Linked DNA regions of Homo sapiens: region 2 is linked to region 1. The links come from fine-mapping of genetic effects on gene expression. A gene starts in region 1. The other region holds a variant in brackets. All regions are shown on one strand. Distances are between the middles of the regions.

Region 1 (2,910 bases):
ATATACAGTTTATATAAAAACATTTATATACAGTTGGTGGTGCCCTGCATGTGCTCAGAAGTTATATCAAGCTGGGCGTGGTGGCTCATGCCTATAATCCCAGCACTTTGGGAGGCTGAGGCGGGTGGATCACCTGATGTCAGGAGTTCGAGACAAGCCTGGCCAACATGGTGAAACTCCATCTCTACTAAAAATACAATAATTAGCCAGGCGTGGTGGCGTGCACCTGTATTCCCAGCTACTCAGGAGACTGAAGCAGGAGGATCACTTGAACCTGGGAGGCAGAGGCTGCAGTCAGCCGAGATTGCATCACTGAGCTCTAGCCTGGGGGACAGAGTGAGACTCTGTCTCAAAAAAAAAAAAAAAAAGTTATATCTAATGTGCTCAGAAGTTAACAATAGAGCAAAATTTCATCAAGGCTGTGTGTGAGGGTATTATCTAGTTACAGATTACAGAGGCTTGGCTGGGCATGGTGACTTAACACCTATAATTTCAGCACTTTCGGAGGCCCAGGCAGGAGGATCGCTTGAGCCCAGGAGTTCAAGACCAGCCTGGGCATCACAGCAACACCTTGTCTCTGCAAAAAATAAAAATAAAAAATTAACTGGGTGTGGTGGCATGCGCCTGTAGTCTCAGCTACTCAGGAGGCTGAGGTGGGAGGAGTGCCTGAACCCGGGAGTTCAAGGCAGCAGTGACCTATGATCGAGCCCCTGCACTCCAGCCTGGGCAACCAAGCGAGACCCTGTCTCTAAAAAAAAAAAAAAAGTTATAGAAGCATAATCATTAATCCCGTCAGAGATTATGTACAGGAAGAGGCAGGGGCTAGGATCATTGAACTTGTCTTTTCTAAAAATGCAGTGTTCAGGCAAGAGAGGTGGAAACCTGTGTTCTCTCTCGCTCTTCCCAGCTTATTGTTCAGGGCGTTATTGGAGAGGGCTGCGCTCAGTCACCGAGTCACGGCCTTTGTGAAATCCTGCTCGCAAGCAGAATGAGCAGACATGGTTCCTTAGGTTTATTACTGTGCCTCACACTACGAGACGGTCATTCATTGGCAGAGGTGTATTTGCGGGGGGCCAGGTATAGAGTAATTCAAGGCGGACAAAGGAGGAATGTCCCAGTCTTCAGGAAGCTCAGTGACATGTTTGCGCTGTCTTATGTAAACAGGAGATTGTCAGAAATGGAGGAGGGGGCACCAGATCCAAGGAAGTGCCCGGACAAAGCCGGGAGGCGAGGAGAGCCGACGGGGAGGAGGTGCCGAGAGCATCAGCGGGGCTGCTCGGTGGCACGAAGACGCCCGCGGGGACTGGAGAGGTCGGCTAGGGCCAGGCTACTCAGGCACGGAGGGCCACCTCCCCTTCAGGGACGTGAGCATCTAGCTGCACTGATTTGTTGTTCAGGAACAGGAAATGAAACCCCGCAGCTTTGAACACAATAACCCACGCCAGCCTCAGGCTCATGAATATTCAGCAGGCTGCTTGCGCCTTGCAACCCCGCCTCCGTTCCCCTCTGCGGAGACTGCGTATGCGTCGCCGGCGCGCGGCTGTGTCGTCATACTTGCGCGCCGACGCCGCCGCTCGCTTGTGAAACTGGAAGGCTGCCATGGCTAGCCCAGCCGCCTCCTCGGTGCGACCACCGAGGCCCAAGAAAGAGCCGCAGACGCTCGTCATCCCCAAGAATGCGGCGGAGGAGCAGAAGCTCAAGCTGGAGCGGCTCATGAAGAACCCGGTGAGACGAGGCCCAGGCTCCACGGCCCGTCCGAGGCCCACCCCCTTCCTCTGCAGCGCTTCAGGGTTCCCGCAGGTCCACCTTCCCCGCCTCCAAACTCAGAAACTCAGTATCCGACCCTCCAAGAGCAGTCTTTGGGGAGGAGGAGGAGAAGGAGGCTGTCCCGGAGATAGTGAACTTCCCGTCTGTCCTTGTGTGAGAGCCCAGCTTGAATCAAAGCACGGTGGAGCGGCTTCCCGTGCTCCAAGACCCCTTCTGGTTTAACTTTCTGTGAACAAAAAGCGTTAGACTGAAAAGGTAGAATTTGTGGGTTAGCAAAAGGGTATACTCTAAACAACACTGATCGTTAGAGAGACAGTGGCCGAGACGTTTGGAGCTGGTCACTCCTCTCCCGCTCACACCCCCTCTGGGCCTCGGTCCCCTCAATCATAAAAACAATTGAACGGGAACGTCCTTTATACCTTTAACTAGAAAAGCTTGACTCTTCTTATCTAGTAGTGTTAAAGTTGGCGGTTTCTAGCTGGAAACTATGGCTTAGGTTTTTCAGTTCTGCTCTGGAAAGCGTAGCCCTGGGAAGGTGTGGACTGTGTTATACCCAAGAGTACATAGGATGAAAAAAGCCACGACAGAGGGAAGAACACAAAATCAGCTCTGTGTCCAAGTAGCAAAGCAGTCCTGCTTCATTAGTCAATTAAAATTCTTTGGTCTTAAGAGATGTAACTTGGGCTGGGTGCTGTGGCCCCTGCCTGTAATTTCAGCGCTTTGGGAGGCCAGGCGGGAGGATGGTCCGAGGCCAGGAAGGAGTTCAAGACCAGCCTGGGCAACATAGTGGGTCCCTGTCTTTACAAAAATAAAAAAATTGCCTGGTGTGGTGGTGTACGCCTGAGAGTCCTAACTATTCTGGAGACTGAACCGGGAGGATCACTTGAGCCCAGGAGTTCAAGGCTGCAGTGAGCTCTGATTGCACCACTGCACTCCAGCCTGAGGAACAGAGCAAGAACCTGTCTCTAAAAAAAGAGAGGGAGATATATAATTTTGTCAACAGGTTTATACTTAAATGCTTTCATGTTTAAATGTTGCAGGACAAAGCAGTTCCAATTCCAGAGAAAATGAGTGAATGGGCACCTCGACCTCCCCCAGAATTTGTCCGAGATGTCATGGGTAATGGCTGTGTGTGTGTGTGTG
Region 2 (2,910 bases), 29 kb before region 1:
TGCGCCACCATGCCCAGCTAATTTTTTGTATTTTTAGAAGAGATGGGGTTTCACTATGTTGGCCAGGCTGGTCTCAAACTCCTGACCTCAGGTGATCCTCCCGCCTCAGCCTCCCAAAGTGCTGGGATTACAGGCATGAGCCACCGAGCCCAGCCAGGATTCATACTTTAAAATGGGAATGTGGAAATAGACATTATCCTGTAAAATATAGTTAGTGTGGCAGATCAGCACCAAAAATGATTTGTGAAGCTTGTATGTATGGGTAGTATATTTTAAGGCTGTTGAAATTGAGCCGCACCTAGGACTGATATTCTTGGCAGTCATCACAAAAGGAAAATGCCATCTGTATTAGTCCATTCTCACACTGCTATAGAGAAATAACCAAGACTGGGTAATTTATAAAGAAAAAAGGTTTAATTGGCTCACGTCTGCAGGCTCTATCATAGGAAGCATGGCTGAGGAGGCCTCAGGAAACTTACAGTCAGGTGAAAGGTGAAGGGAAAGCGGGTGCATCTTCCATCACCAGAGCAGGAGGAAGAGGGAACATTGGGGATTACAATTGAACATGAGATTTGGGAGGCGACACACACCGAAACCATATCACCATCCATGACATCGTTTGCATTGATTATAAGGAGAAACCAGTTTTGTTACTTGTGCATTTAAAAGATTTTCTAGGACTTGGAAAAATTTCTTCATTCAAGTTGATATAATTGTGGATAGCTTTCCTAACAACAACCATTAAATTACTGTAACTTATGGCTTATTCTCGGTGCTTATGTAAGCAGAGGGCCTGCTGCCCAAGGAGAACTTGGTGCATAATTTTTCCAGGGACGGAAATATCGTGATCCAAGTAAACAATTCTGTTTTTACTGTTGAGTCCTAGATCATGGGGGGAATGAATGACGTGATCATCCGTCAAATATTTGTTCGTCTTTTTGTTCGGGTTGCACAGCAAACAATACAAACAGTACTCTCTTGTGAAGATTTCCTCATTTCTGTTTCTCATTTCACTTCTCAGTGTTTTCGTTTTGTCCTTTTCACTTTGCTAAGTCAGTCAGTAAAGGTGACCAGTGATTTAATTGCAGTCAAATCCAGCGGGCATTTCCTAGCCCCTTCCTCACAGGACCCTTTGTCTGCCTTTGACATCCGTTACTTCCAAACTGATATTTTCTCCATGGAGTCTCTCTTTTCTTGGCTTTTGAAAAGATTCATCTGTAAGTATTTGTTTGTCTTTAAATGGTGAAGTCTGTTTTGTTTTGTTTCTTTTTTTCTTTTTTTGAGATAGGGTCTTGCTCTGTCGCCCAGGCTGGAGTGTAGAGACATGATCACAACTCACTGCAACCTCAATCTCCCGGGCCCACACGATCCTCTTGCCTCAGCCTCCCGCGTAGCTGGGACTACAGGTGCACGCTGCCACACCTCGCTAGTTTTTTTGTATTTTAGTAGAGACTGGCTTTCACCGTGTCATGCATGTCGAACTCCTGAGCTCAGGCAGTCTGCCCGCCTCGGCGTCCCAAAGTGTTAGGATTACAGGCATGCGCCACTGCTCCCGGCCTAGAAATGTACTCTCACTGTATTGCTCAGGCTGGTCTCAAACTCCT[G/A]GCCTCAAGCAGTCCTTTCACTTTGGCCTCCCAAAGTGGTAGGATTACAGGTGTAAGCCACCACACCTGGCCAATAAGGAATCTTTTTAAAAGGGGCTAGGAATAACCCATAATACTCTCTTTCTTAATACATGTGGCAGTTGGGTTAAATCTTTTAATAGTTCCCATAGTATGTCTCCTGTGTGCTTATTGTTTTGAAGAAACTGGGTTGGTTATCTTCAGTTTGGATTGTGTTACCCTTGTTTCACCTTTAGCACATTTTTAAAAAATATCTTTTATGCCTTGGTAAAATTGGTAGTTTGATCTGGAAGTCTAATCAGGTTTATGTTCAGTTCTTTTCACACAACTATACCATATGTGGCATTTGTCTACTTCTGGAGGCACGTGTTACCTTCTTTGTTTTTGTGAAGTTAAGAACTATTGACTGTTGATTATTGCTGTGATTTACTATTGCTGTGATTTGCCTTCATTAGGGGAGGCAAAATGGTGATCTGCTAATTCTACCATTTCTTCTTTATTTACTAGCCAAAATACCTTTCTTTTCTTTTTTTGGAGACAGAGTCTCACTCTGTCACCCAGGCTGGCACGTTTATGGCTCACTGCAGCCTCAAACTCCTGTGCTCAAGTGATCCTCCCACTTCAGCCTCCCAAGTAGCTGGGAGTATAGTCATATGCCACAATGCCCAGCGGATTTTTAAATTTTTAGTAGAGACAGGTTTCTCTATGTTGCCCAGGCTGGTCTGGAACTGGGCTCAAGTGATCCTCTTCTTTGACCTCCCAGTGTTGGGATTATAGGCATGAGCCACCACGGCTGGCCTAGAATACTTTTCTAAAGATAAATTTCTATTCTCTGTTTGTTTATGTAATTCATGCAGGAAAGACAGTTTCTAAAATATTGAGTAGGCTTTTAAGCAGGAGGGTATTTTGTTTTGTTAACCATCATGAGCTCATGGGTTTAAACAGATAGTAAATATTTCAGTACATAGAAGTTGTGATTCTTTTTGAAAATTAAGTGGTTCCATCTTTGGCCAGACGGAATCCCTTTAAGTTGGTTTCTGAGTCCTTTTGAGATATATTTGATATATATGATAGCAAATGTATACATATAATATATATTTGATAGCAAATATATACATATAATATATATTTGATAGCAAATATATGCATATAATATATATTTGATAGCAAATATATACATATAATATATATTTGATAGCAAATATATACATATATATTTGATAGCAAATATATGTATATATTTGATAGCAAATATATATAAATTTATATGATTTCAAAATAAAATGCT

Evidence for each region. PIP is the estimated chance that this variant, and not a neighbour inherited with it, causes the effect. A credible set is the group of variants that fine-mapping cannot tell apart.
Region 2: its variant is the best candidate, but not a certain one, in a credible set for the expression of PRKRIP1 in monocytes after Pam3CSK4 (Quach 2016, PIP 0.68).

What each region holds. Positions count from the first base shown.
Region 1 is chr7:102,394,813-102,397,722 of GRCh38, forward strand. PRKRIP1 (PRKR interacting protein 1) reads left to right here and starts at 1,551. Exons shown (of 6, transcript NM_024653.4): 1 at 1,551-1,725; 2 at 2,808-2,886. The coding sequence starts at 1,600. LOC100630923 (LOC100289561-PRKRIP1 readthrough) reads left to right here. Exons shown (of 9, transcript NR_038967.1): 5 at 2,808-2,886. RefSeq lists a silencer at 1,407-1,486 and enhancers at 1,507-1,746, 1,528-2,069.
Region 2 is chr7:102,366,301-102,369,210 of GRCh38, forward strand. All of the region lies in intron 2 of LOC100630923 (LOC100289561-PRKRIP1 readthrough), which reads left to right. It also overlaps the pseudogene LOC100289561. Among named protein-coding and RNA genes, the nearest start is that of SPDYE6, 11 kb to the left of the region's middle. The variant G/A (reference allele first, on the strand shown) is at 1,605.